Linked DNA regions of Homo sapiens: regions 1 and 2 are each reported to be linked to region 3. Evidence: microRNA targets listed by miRTarBase, many of them from high-throughput screens and not tested one by one. Region 3 holds a microRNA gene; each other region holds the end of a gene's coding sequence.

Evidence for each region. Region 3 holds the annotated microRNA hsa-miR-6515-5p (UUGGAGGGUGUGGAAGACAUC, at 2,708-2,728, opposite strand). A microRNA usually pairs through its seed, bases 2 to 8, with sites in the 3' UTR of a target mRNA and lowers its output. Matches are read on the target gene's strand: a 7mer-m8 pairs with bases 2 to 8, a 7mer-A1 pairs with bases 2 to 7 and ends in A, and an 8mer does both.
Region 1: miRTarBase lists HAND2 as a target of hsa-miR-6515-5p. Seed matches in the 3' UTR shown: 8mer at 964-971.
Region 2: the mRNA of LRP10 is a reported target of hsa-miR-6515-5p. Seed matches in the 3' UTR shown: 7mer-m8 at 653-659, 7mer-m8 at 959-965, 7mer-m8 at 1,523-1,529 and 7mer-m8 at 1,530-1,536.

The regions. Positions count from the first base shown.
Region 1 is chr4:173,523,923-173,528,047 of GRCh38, reverse strand. It overlaps HAND2 (heart and neural crest derivatives expressed 2), which reads left to right. Exons shown (of 2, transcript NM_021973.3): 2 at 673-1,957. The coding sequence ends at 771. Among named protein-coding and RNA genes, the nearest start is that of HAND2, 4.2 kb to the left of the region's middle. RefSeq lists an enhancer at 2,763-3,304.
Region 2 is chr14:22,876,958-22,881,082 of GRCh38, forward strand. LRP10 (LDL receptor related protein 10) reads left to right here. Exons shown (of 7, transcript NM_014045.5): 7 at 1-4,125. The coding sequence ends at 570. Among named protein-coding and RNA genes, the nearest start is that of REM2, 4.2 kb to the right of the region's middle.
Region 3 is chr19:12,939,089-12,943,213 of GRCh38, reverse strand. It overlaps MIR6515 (microRNA 6515), which reads right to left and starts at 2,730; the gene lies at 2,674-2,730. CALR (calreticulin) reads right to left here. Exons shown (of 9, transcript NM_004343.4): 2 at 3,979-4,080; 3 at 3,583-3,786; 4 at 3,067-3,161; 5 at 2,762-2,971; 6 at 2,560-2,673; 7 at 2,327-2,470. RefSeq lists enhancers at 2,158-2,785, 2,122-3,321, 3,558-4,125.

The sequences.
Region 1 (4,125 bases), not on the chromosome of region 3:
ATTGTTATTAAAAATAACACGAAAGTAAATTGAGCCGCTTAAAATTTTCTCAGATTCCTACCAAGTGCCCACAGGGCAGTGGTGCAGGATAGAGCTATGTCCACGAAGGGCCCGGAAAATAATTGCATTTGTCGAATTTTTCTTCTTTGGCCCCTGCAGCCCTTTGGTGGCTGCATAATCGAGTGACCTCCCGAATAACCAGAGATTTCAGAAGCCTTGGAGGAGAGGCACTGCTGAGCTGGAGGCCGAGAGCCTCTGGCCGAGAGGCCCAGGCCGAAACAGAGGCTCCTTCGCCCTATTTTTCCTAGATGTGGATCTAGGATTGCTAATGAAAACAGAGAAACCAGACTTAGCGCCGACTCCAGCTCCCGCCCCTACATCTGGAGTAAGAGAAAAGGCCCCCCGCTCCTCCATAAACGACTCGAAAACGGGCGGTTGTTTATAAACTTGTGGATCCGGTTGTTGAGCGCTGCAGCGCCGAGGCCTCCCCGCCGGCTAGGGTAGCGCTAACCTTGGTAGCTTCTCTGCAGGGGCTGGGACTCCCCCATCGTATCCTTTCCTCTCTGGTTCACTGTCTCCTCCGGCGCAGGAAGCTCCGGGTTGGTGTGGAACCAGGTATCCTCTCTGAATTTCTCTTTCCACTTTTCTCGCCCTCGCCTTTCCTCTGTCCAGAACGAAATCTTGAAAAGCACAGTGAGCAGCAACGACAAGAAAACCAAAGGCCGGACGGGCTGGCCGCAGCACGTCTGGGCCCTGGAGCTCAAGCAGTGAGGAGGAGGAGAAGGAGGAGGAGGAGAGCGCGAGTGAGCAGGGGCCAAGGCGCCAGATGCAGACCCAGGACTCCGGAAAAGCCGTCCGCGCTCCGCTCTGAGGACTCCTTGCATTTGGAATCATCCGGTTTATTTATGTGCAATTTCCTTCCCCTCTCTTTGACCCCCTTTGAGGCATCTGCTCCCCGTCTCCCCCTCCAAAAAAAAAGTGGATATTTGAAGAAAAGCATTCCATATTTTAATACGAAGAGGACACTCCCGTGTGGTAAGGGATCCCGTCGTCTCATAGATTCTGTGTGCGTGAATGTTCCCTCTTGGCTGTGTAGACACCAGCGTTGCCCCCCGCCAACCTACTCAACCCCTTCCAGATAAAGACAGTGGGCACTAGTGCGTTTGTGAAGTGTATCTTTAATACTTGGCCTTTGGATATAAATATTCCTGGGTATTATAAAGTTTTATTTCAAAGCAGAAAACAGGGCCGCTAACATTTCCGTTGGGGTCGGTATCTAGTGCTATCCATTCATCTGTGGTCGTTCCCTCTTTGAAGATGTTTCCAACAGCCACTTGTTTTGTGCACTTCCGTCCTCTAAAACTAAATGGAATTTAATTAATATTGAAGGTGTAAACGTTGTAAGTATTCAATAAACCACTGTGTTTTTTTTTTACAAAAACCTTAATCTTTTAATGGCTGATACCTCAAAAGAGTTTTGAAAACAAAGCTGTTATACTTGTTTTCGTAATATTTAAAATATTCAGAAGTAAACTAAATTATCATGATTGCCTCTAACTTTATTTTAAAGACTCAGTGGTTCCAACCAGTCACCCTGACCTGCGGCCTACGCAGGAGGAGGAGGTGCTCTTAAAGAGAAGTGTCCTTGTTACAAATCCTGCAAATGGTCTGGGGTTTGTCGGTGTGGTGTCTCCTTCCCTCTTCCCCCAGCTGGAGAACGCTGAGTAGTCTCTAGAAGGAAGATCTGGGCTGGAGAACCCAGTCCGGCAGTTCGCTCAGAAGGTGTAAAGGTGCTCTTGCTTTCCTGAAGTCAATCAGAAGCCATTTCTTGAGGCCGTCAGTTTTTGTTTGGAGAGTGTTTCTGGTGGAGGAGTTGTGAGGAGAACCCCGGCATTATTGCTGCAACGGGAACTAGTCTGGGGTGTTTAATTCAAACTATGGGGCTTTCATCCAAGAAAAAAAAAAGGAAAAAGAAAAGAGAGGAGAGGATTTTGCTTGTATTCTATACGGGGGCTTCTCATCTGAGCAGGCGGGAAAGGGGGGTGGAGGGAGTTTCGAAAAAGTCCATGATTAGGTAACAAGGAATTTTACGTCAAGTAAGAAATCGTGAACAAGACCACGGATTTAAAGAGGGGCGAGGGGCGGGTTAGATTTACAAGGAGTTACAGGGAACTCAATATTAACTGTGCGGTGTCTGAAGTCTTCCCGGCCGCAGCCCAGCGAAACAAGCGACACCCTTCCGGGACTACCGGCAGCACGGGACCCGGGATCTCTCCCTGTTGGGTCTTTGGGCTCCCTGAGTCCCAGCTCGTCCCAGAAGAAAGTCCCAGCGGCCTCCTTTGCCTGCAGCCTTGGCGGAAGCTTGAATCTCAGCTCTAGAAACCGGAGAAACTAAAGTGCCTGTGCAGGCTGCGGGAAGGGGGGAGGAGGCTGGGAGGGATTTTGGAAGGGGGTGGGAGGAGGAGAAAGGTGAACCGTATTAAAAAGTGGTTTGTTTCATGGAACGCCGCGTATATAAATCTGGTGTTGGAGAGGCTTGCCAGAGGGTTTCCATCCTGGAACCCATCCTCAGGGTGATGTTCGCAACTTGGCCTCGGGCACAGACCCTCCCGCGATGTCCCAAGGGTTCCCACGCCTAGCTGGTGTCCACTATGACCCCTCTGCCTGCAGCAGGCCGAATCAGACCCGGCGTGGGCGAATTCAGAAGTGCCCAGGGAGAGACAAGCTAGAGGCTCTGCGGACTTCTGCGGGCGGCTGACAACGCGAGGGCGAGGGGTTAGAACAACTCGGCCAAAGCGATCTGAACTTTCTCCCCTTGGGTCAGCCGGCGCTGGGCCGACCTGGTGGGCGCGGGGCTGTGTTTACAGACACTTGCCTTTGTTTATAGCATGGGGAGGAGGTGTGGGGGAGGCGCGCCCTGATTTTCTGTTGCTCTCCCAATCCTCCTGCGTTTGATCCAGTGGTTCCCTCCCTCTCCTGATTCCAGTTGTCTTCCGCGTCTTTATTTTAATCTGCTCAGGAGAAAGCCATCAGGTCCTAGACGTGGAAGAAAGGAGCCTACCAAAGTGTTGGAGTAAACAGTGGCGGAGGAGGTGAGGTTTTAAAAACAGGAAACGGAGAGGAGTTATCTTCACCATGCACCTACGCTTCTCTGCACCTTGTGTAGCTGGTCTCCGCCATCTGGGCCTTAAGGCACTTCTGCAGATTTAACACTTTCTCTGGCTTATTAAACAACAACAGAGGGAAACCAAAAGACCCTGGCGCACCATTGCTACGGAGAAACTTGCTAATACACTTGCTTTTTAAACCTGCGCTCCTCTTTGGCCCCGGCCAAGCACAGCCTGCCTCCTCTTCCTCAGGGCCAGCAACACTAGGCCTGGTCACCCCACCCGCCCTGCCATTTCAACTCGCCAGAAACCCTAACCAGCCAGACACCCAGCAGACCGGACACCCCAGACGGCAGAATGCCCAGCTGCCTGACACTGCAGGCGGCTGAACCCCCTAACCAGACGCACACCCCAACTGACCAGATGCTTCAACCTGCAGGACACCCCAGATTATCTGTCACCCCAGCCGCTCTCAGCCACCCAACATCCCCGCCCCAGGTTGTCAAGTCCCAGGAAGTGAAAGGCGTACTGGGCAGACGTTTCTTCTGAGCTTCCATGCTTTTCTCTTCCAACACTTATTTCTCTTTTAACTTTTTCTTCTTTGTTTAAAAAAATTTTCCAAGCCTCTACTTGCGGGACCGGCTAAAAGGCCTCTGTTTTAATTGCTCGGATAATGTGGTTGCTGCCATTTTGTTAAGAGCAATCACTCCTGCAGGGAAATCACAAGCGTTCTAGACAGGCCGGAGCCGACAAAAATGTAGGATTTGACGTTAAAAGCTAAATGGGAAGCTGCGGCGGCGGAAGGTAAATTGATGGTAGATCTGGCTGTCAGGGCTCTGCCCCAGACCGCTGTGCAGGCCCAGCGTCTGATAACCCTGGAGCACCGGAGGGGCAAAGGCTTGGCCAGTTGTAGACGGTGTGTGTGTGTGTGTGTGTGTGTGTGTGTGCGCGCGCGCAAACCCCTTCTCAGCTTGGGAAGCAATTTGAAAAACTGCAGAGTGGGGGCCCCGCTCCCAAT
Region 2 (4,125 bases), not on the chromosome of region 3:
CTGCGTTCTCTGCTACAGATCTTACGCCAGGATATGACTCCAGGAGGTGGCCCAGGTGCCCGCCGTCGTCAGCGGGGCCGCTTGATGCGACGCCTGGTACGCCGTCTCCGCCGCTGGGGCTTGCTCCCTCGAACCAACACCCCGGCTCGGGCCTCTGAGGCCAGATCCCAGGTCACACCTTCTGCTGCTCCCCTTGAGGCCCTAGATGGTGGCACAGGTCCAGCCCGTGAGGGCGGGGCAGTGGGTGGGCAAGATGGGGAGCAGGCACCCCCACTGCCCATCAAGGCTCCCCTCCCATCTGCTAGCACGTCTCCAGCCCCCACTACTGTCCCTGAAGCCCCAGGGCCACTGCCCTCACTGCCCCTAGAGCCATCACTATTGTCTGGAGTGGTGCAGGCCCTGCGAGGCCGCCTGTTGCCCAGCCTGGGGCCCCCAGGACCAACCCGGAGCCCCCCTGGACCCCACACAGCAGTCCTGGCCCTGGAAGATGAGGACGATGTGCTACTGGTGCCACTGGCTGAGCCGGGGGTGTGGGTAGCTGAGGCAGAGGATGAGCCACTGCTTACCTGAGGGGACCTGGGGGCTCTACTGAGGCCTCTCCCCTGGGGGCTCTACTCATAGTGGCACAACCTTTTAGAGGTGGGTCAGCCTCCCCTCCACCACTTCCTTCCCTGTCCCTGGATTTCAGGGACTTGGTGGGCCTCCCGTTGACCCTATGTAGCTGCTATAAAGTTAAGTGTCCCTCAGGCAGGGAGAGGGCTCACAGAGTCTCCTCTGTACGTGGCCATGGCCAGACACCCCAGTCCCTTCACCACCACCTGCTCCCCACGCCACCACCATTTGGGTGGCTGTTTTTAAAAAGTAAAGTTCTTAGAGGATCATAGGTCTGGACACTCCATCCTTGCCAAACCTCTACCCAAAAGTGGCCTTAAGCACCGGAATGCCAATTAACTAGAGACCCTCCAGCCCCCAAGGGGAGGATTTGGGCAGAACCTGAGGTTTTGCCATCCACAATCCCTCCTACAGGGCCTGGCTCACAAAAAGAGTGCAACAAATGCTTCTATTCCATAGCTACGGCATTGCTCAGTAAGTTGAGGTCAAAAATAAAGGAATCATACATCTCAAAATTTTGCAAATTAGCTGCGAGCCTGAGCCCCGCCTCTGCCCATCTCAGTCTATGCTCACCTCATCCCACTCCTCCCTGTGGAGCCCTTTGCTTGGCCCTCTACCTCCTGCCCTCTTCCTGTTCATCTCCCAACCACTGCACTCTTGATTTTTATACCACACAGAAGGTAAGAAAATTCTAGGAACCCTAAGGATCAATCCTCTCCATTTTCACTCAAATGCCTGGGGCCCAGCTCTGCAATGACTGACTCCAGGGCCTCTTTCCTCACTGCCAGCATAGAAGTCAGGGGAGCCAGCTGGGCCCTGCGGTCAGGAAGGTTCTCATTTTTGGAGCATACCCTGAGCCCAGATCATAGGAGCAGCTGTCCCTGGTGGGACACAGGAGTCATGACTCCTACCCTCCACCCTCCACACCCACCAGGCATTTAGCAGTCTGTCCTATGCAAGACAGATGAATTCTCAGCCAGGATACCTCAAGGCAGGCAAAGGTGAGTGGAGGGAGAATTCACAAACATTCAGGGTGTGTGGTGCTGGCATCACCATGGCCAAATCCAAGAGGTCTTCCTGGAAGAGGGCCCAAACTGGAACCAAAAGAATGCTGTCAGCAGTTGGAATAGAGCTGTGAATTCTAGACAGGGGGAGTGTCCCCAGAACAAGCAAACGGAGGAGACAAGAGGGCAAGGGTTATAGGAAAGACCCTGGGCCTGAGAGCACAAGCAGCGGCCAGAGCTGCAGCGCTGGGGTGGGTGATGGAGGGAATGATTCGCAAGCAGTGTTGGAACCCAGCCCCTAGTGAGCAAAGTGACAGAAGCTGCCCCAGAGTTTGGAAGGAAGATCGAGGCAGAAGATGTAGAAGGAAGCTGTGGGGGTGGGAGTGATGCCTCAGGAACAAAACTGAGGAATTCCCTAACGGACCCAGTCCCTGGGGAAAGAGGCTCCCCTCAGGCTCTCCTTGTCTAGCCCCACACCTGGCAGAGCCTGTCACCCAGCCTAGCCCCACGCCTGGCAGAGCCCATCACCCAGCCTAGCCCCACACCTGGTGGAGAGGCCCTGTTGATTACACCCTGTCAGCCTCCTCAAACCCAGCACTAATTGCACAATTTTCCTCTCTTCTAGTGAGCAAGAGCCTGAGGAAGTAGCAGAGAGGGGTGTGGGCCCATGTGCAGTTCTGGGACCCTGGCACCTTGGCTCAGGGAAGACCCGAGCTCCTTTCACTGCAGACCCTCTCCAGAGACTGGGGAGAGGGCTCTGGAGAACCTGGTTCTTGCTTACTGTTCTCCCTTTGGGCCCTCCTTCCCAAACGCAAACAATCCAGGATCCACTCAGCGTCAGGCCCAATGGAAATAGTGAAGCAGTGATTTTCCCTCCCCTGCCTCTCCATAGCCTGGTCTTTTGCCCTCTCCTTTGCTCTTCTCTTCCCCCATAGCCACCTCAAATACCTGCAGCCTGATATCTTCATCCCTTCATCCAGACCTTTTCTCTCCTAGTGGTATTGCAAACTGAAAGTGGACAAAGACTTAAGGTAAACCTGCTCCTCATGGTGGAATGCTTCCAAATGCTGGAAGGAGGACTTTAGGGCAGAGTTCACTAAGGAGGCTTGTGCTTATAGATCAGTGGGCCTGAAAGAAGTTTCTCTAGGTTCTGGTTGTGTGCTGTACGAGGTGTAGGTAGTAATAATACTCTTGTCAGCCACAGTGAAGCCCCAAGCTAGCCGGGATAGGGGACTGACCTTGTACAGGCAGCATGGAGAAACTAAGACAGAGTGTCCTGCCCAAGTGATGGCACTGGGGAGCAGTCACTCAGGTTTATTTCCACCAGGGCCCAAGAAAAAAAGAAATGAGGCAACCTAAAATTCCATCAAGATAGATACCAATATCCAAGGTGCTTGGTCTTAGCGGTGTGGGACCCACGTTAAGGCTCTTGGTGGGAAGGTGGGAGGTGTTTTCAGCATGAGATAGGGTTCAGGCTGTGAATCAGAGTCTAGAGCCTAAGATAAAAGAAGATACCAGGGCTGGGCCACGGTGGCTTTCGCCTGTAATCCTAGCACTTTGGGAGGCCAAGGCAGGCAGACTGCCTGAGCTCAGGAGTTCGAGACTAGCCTGAGCAACACGGTGAAACCCTGTCTCTACTAAAATACAAAAAAGTAGCCAGGTGTGGCGGCATGCACCTGTAGTCCCAGCTACTCGAGAGGCTGAGGCAGGAGAATTGCTTGAACCCGGGAGGCGGAGGTTGCAGTGAGTGGAGATCGCGCCACTGCACTCTAGCCTGGGTGACAGAGCGAGACTCCTTCTCCAAAAAAAAAGAAAAGAAGATACCAGAACTCAGTCCTTAAGAAACAAAATTCTGCCAGGCGCAGTAGCTCACACCTGTAATCCCAGCACTTTGGAGGGGCCAAGGCAGGCGGATCGCTTGAGGCCAAGAGTTCAAGAACAGCCTGGGCAACATGATGAAACCCTGTCTCTACCAAAAATACTAAAAATTAGCCAGTCTCACAACCTGGTCTCAAAATAAATAAATAGATTTAAAAAAAAAATCATGGGCCTGAACCAAGCTCCAGACCTCACTAGGAGGGGAGAAGGACCCCCCAGCCACACAGCCCAAGGCTGCAGAAGCACCTAGGTGGTTAGAGAGTGAGTGCCTGGATGGGGCGCAGTGGCTCACACCTGTAATCCCAGCACTTTGGGAGGCCGAGGCAGGCGGATCACGAGGTCAAGAGATCAAGACCATCCTGGCCAACATGGTGACACCGTGTCTCTACTAAAAATACAAAAATAAGCTGGGCATGGTGGTGCGTGCCTGTAGTCCCATCTACTCGGGAGGCTGAAGCAGGAGAATCACTTGAACCTGGGAGGCAAAGGTTGCAGTGAGCTGAGATCGCGCCACTGCACTCCAGCCTGGCAACAGAGCGAGACAAGACTCCATCTCAAAAAAAAAAGTGAGTGCCCGATGATGCCAGATTCTTCATCACCTGAAGTGAACCCACACAACAGGGCTGGGCCA
Region 3 (4,125 bases):
ATTTGGGAGGCTGAGACAGGAGAATGATGTGAACCCAGGAGGCGGAGCTTGCAGTGAGCCAAGATCGTGCCACTGCACTCCAGCCTGGGTGACAGAGTGAGACTCCATCTCCAAAAAAAAAAAAAAAAAAAAAAAAGATGGAAAGATGGAGAGACAGCCAGGGACGGGACGGGCTCATGCCTGTAATCCCAGCACTTTGGGAGGTCATGGCGAACGGATCACTTGAGGCCAGGAGTTCGAGACCAACCTGGGCAACATAGTGAAACTCTGTCTCTACTAAAAAAAATTAGCCCGGGGTCTGTGATGGCGCATCCCTGTAATCCCAGCTACTCAGGAGGCCGAGGCAGGAGAATCGCTTGAATCTGGGATGCAGAGGTTGTGGTGAGCCGCCGAGATTGCATCATTGCACTCCAGCCTGGGCAACAAGAGTGAAATTCCATCTCAAAAAAAAAAAAGCCCAGCGTCGTGGCGCATGCCTGTAATTCCAGCTGCTCGAGAGGATGAGGCATGAGAATCACTTGAACCTGGAAGGCAGAGGCTGCAGTGAGCCGAGATCAAGCCACTGCACTCCAACCTGGGTGACAGAGCAAGACTCTGTCTTAAAAAAAAAAAAAAAAAAAGATGGAGAGACTCAGGTGCTGTACTGCCCAGGTTCAAACCCCAGCTTTGTGGTTTCCTACCCCCATGACCTTGGGCCACTGACTTCAGTTCTCTGCACCTGTTTCTTGTTTCTCACTCTCTTATTCAGGTATTTTTCAGGTACCTACTACATGCCAGAACTGTCTTGGGCACAGAAGGTATTTCAGTGACCAAAACAGACAAAAATTCAGTCCCAGCATTTTTTTTTTTTTTTGGGACAGAGTCTCGCTATCACCCAGGCTGGAGTGCAATGGCATGATCTCAGCTCACTGCAAGCTCCGCCTCCCGGGTTCACGTCATCCTTTTGCCTCAGCCTCCCGAGTAGCTGGGACTACAGGCGCCCACCACCACACCTGGCAAATTTTTTGTATTTTTACTAGAGATGGGGTTTCATTCACCATGTTAGCCAGGATGGTCTCCATCTCCTGACCTTGTGATCCACCCGCCTTGGCCTCCCAAAGTGCTGGGATTACAGGTGTGAGCCACTGTGTCCGGCCAAGTCCCAACTTTTTTTGAGAGGGTCTCACTCTGTCACCGAGGCTGGAGTGCAGTGACATAATCATGGCTCACTGCAGCCTCGATGCCCCAGGCTCAAGTGATCATCCTTCTTCCTTGGTAGTTGGGACTACAGGTATGCATGACATCTCGCCAATTTTTAAAGTTTTTGTAGAGGCTAGGCATGGTGGCTAACCCTTGTAATCCCAGCACTTTGGGAGGCCGAGGCGGGCAGATGACCTGAGGCCAGGAGTTCGAGACCAACCTGGGCAACATGAAGCCCTGTCTCTACAAAAAGGCTGGGTGAGGTGGCTCACGCCTGTAATCCCAGCACTTTGGGAGGCCAAGGTGGGTGGTTCATGAGGTCAGGAGATGGAGACCATCCTGGCTAACACGGTGAAACCATGTCTGTACTAAAAAAAAAAATACAAAAAAATTAGCCAGGCATGGTGGGGGGTGCCTGTAGTCCCAGTTACTCGGGACCCTGAGGCAGAAGAATGGAGTGAACCTGGGGGGTCGTGCGGAGCTTGCAGTGAGCAGAGATCACACCACTGCACTCCAGCCTGGGCGACAGAGCAAGGCACGGTCTCAAAAAAAAAAAAAAAAAAAAAAATTAGCCTGGCATCCATAGTAGCACATGCCTGTAATCCCAGCTACTCCGGAGGCTGAGGCAGGAGAATCGCTTGAAACCAGGAGACGGAGGGCGCAGTGAGCTGAGATCGTGCCATTGCACTCCAGCCTCAGCAACAAGAGTGAAACTCTGTCTCAAAAAAAAAAATTTTTTTTGTAGAGATAGGGTCTCCTCGCTGTGTTGCCAAGCTAGGTTGAGTTGTGTAACTCCTGGCCTCAAGCAATCCTCTGTCTCAGCCTCCCAAAGTACCGTGATTGTAAGGGTGAGCCACTGTGCCCAGCCCCAGCTAACTAACTGGGTTACCTGACCACCTTCTAGGTCTTTGGGGGTAAAGAAGTTGATTTGCATAAAAGTACTTGGGGAAGTACTTGGTGCACAGCAAGTATAACCTTAAAGGGGTTGCTGTGAGGACTTCACAGGGACAGACCAGGAAGTACTGTTTACAAGAAGTACCATTTTTGAGTCAGACTCACCTGGGGTGCCTACCCTGTCCCTTTCCTCTTGGGTGATCTTATGCACTTGAGGTACCCCAGGGATCCTCCTTTTTCCTCCAAGTCTCACCTGCCAGAGGTCCAGGCCCAGCACGCCAAAGTTATCATAGGCATAGATACTGGGATCGGGAGAATACTCGGGGTTGTCAATTTCTGGGTGGATCCAAGTGCCCTTGTAATCTGGGTTGTCGATCTGCCGGGGCTTCCACTCACCCTGCAGAAGGGAGAAGGAAACCGAAGGGTGAGTAAGGTTGGTGCACTCCCCACTGTGAGCCCCAGCCCTGCTCAGAGCCCCAAACTCACCTTGTACTCAGGGTTCTGAATCACTGGGGGTTCCCACTCTCCGTCCATCTCTTCATCCCAGTCCTCGGGCTTCTTAGCATCAGGGTCAGGGATATGCTCGGGCTTGTCCCAGTCCTGGGGGGTAGATGAAGAGATCAGAGTTGGCCCAGATGTCTTCCACACCCTCCAATGTGGAGAGCAGAGCCCCTGCCCAAACACCAACCTCAGGCTTGGAGTCTGTGGGATCATCGATCTTGGCCCGCTCATCCCAGTCTTCCGGTTTTGAAGCATCAGGATCCTTTATCTTCTTGGGTGGCAGGAAGTCCCAATCGTCTTCCAAGGAGCCGGACTCCACCTGGCTGTTGTCAATCTTCACCTCATAGGTGTTGTCTGGCCGCACAATCAGTGTGTACAGGTGTGTAAACTCATCATCCTGAAGAAGGAAGAAGGTGAGCGGGGGCCACCCCCCAATGAGGCTGACCTCTGAATCTCCCCATGACAGCCATTTGCCACCACCCCCAGGCACACCTTGCAACGGATGTCCTTGTTGATCAGCACGTTCTTGCCCTTGTAGTTGAAGATGACATGAACCTTCTTGGTGCCAGGGCCACAGATGTCGGGACCTAGGTGTGAAGCAGATCCAGTTAAGAGTCAGAGACTACCCATCATCTCGAGGCTCTCACCCCTCTTTATAAAAGGAAGACCTGGTTCTTCAACTCGGGTCTGTCAAGGCTGAGAAGAGAAACTCAGACCCTGATTCTGTCCTGAATGGGCTGTGGGTGGAGCCTTAAGTTTAAAGGAGAAAAAAAAAAAATCAGTGCTCTAGAACTCAAAATCCTCATTAGTAAGATTGGGAAATAACTATATACAAACACGCAAATTAAATTAACAGCCTAGATCTGCGATCATAATGCAATAAATTGTTGCTGGGACTTATTCTTTTAGCTCCCCTTCCAAAAAAAATCATTATTAAGAAAGTCAATGGGGTCTGGGTCTCCCTCTAACTAATGGGACAGAGATCAGCACCAGGAAGCAGGCCCTCACCAAACATGATGTTGTATTCTGAGTCTCCGTGCATGTCTGTCTGGTCCAAACTATTAGGAAACAGCTTCACATAGCCGCCCCCACAGTCGATGTTCTGCTCATGTTTCACCGTGAACTGCACCACCAGCGTCTGGCCTTTGTTGCTGAAAGGCTCGAAACTGGCCGACAGAGCATAAAAGCGTGCATCCTGGCTTGTCTGCAAACCTGAGACGGGACGGTAGTGAGGTCACCGTTGGGCCTTGACTCGCGAGGACCCTCGACTTAGAGAATAGAGAAGACTCCCCCACTTCCTCCACCTGTCCTCCTCCAAGGGGACTGTCCCGGCTGTGTGTGTACAGACAAGGACTTCTGCCAGGAAGTCCTCCCGGATCTGAGCACCCACTCCTAGGCTCTTACCTTTATCTTTCTCCTCGTCACCGTAGAACTTGCCGGAACTGAGAACGAATTTGCCAAAATCTGACTTGTGTTTGGATTCGATCCAGCGGGAAGTCCACCCGTCTAAGTGGGGGATTAGAGGGGTAGGTCAGAGCGGCTGTGCTAATC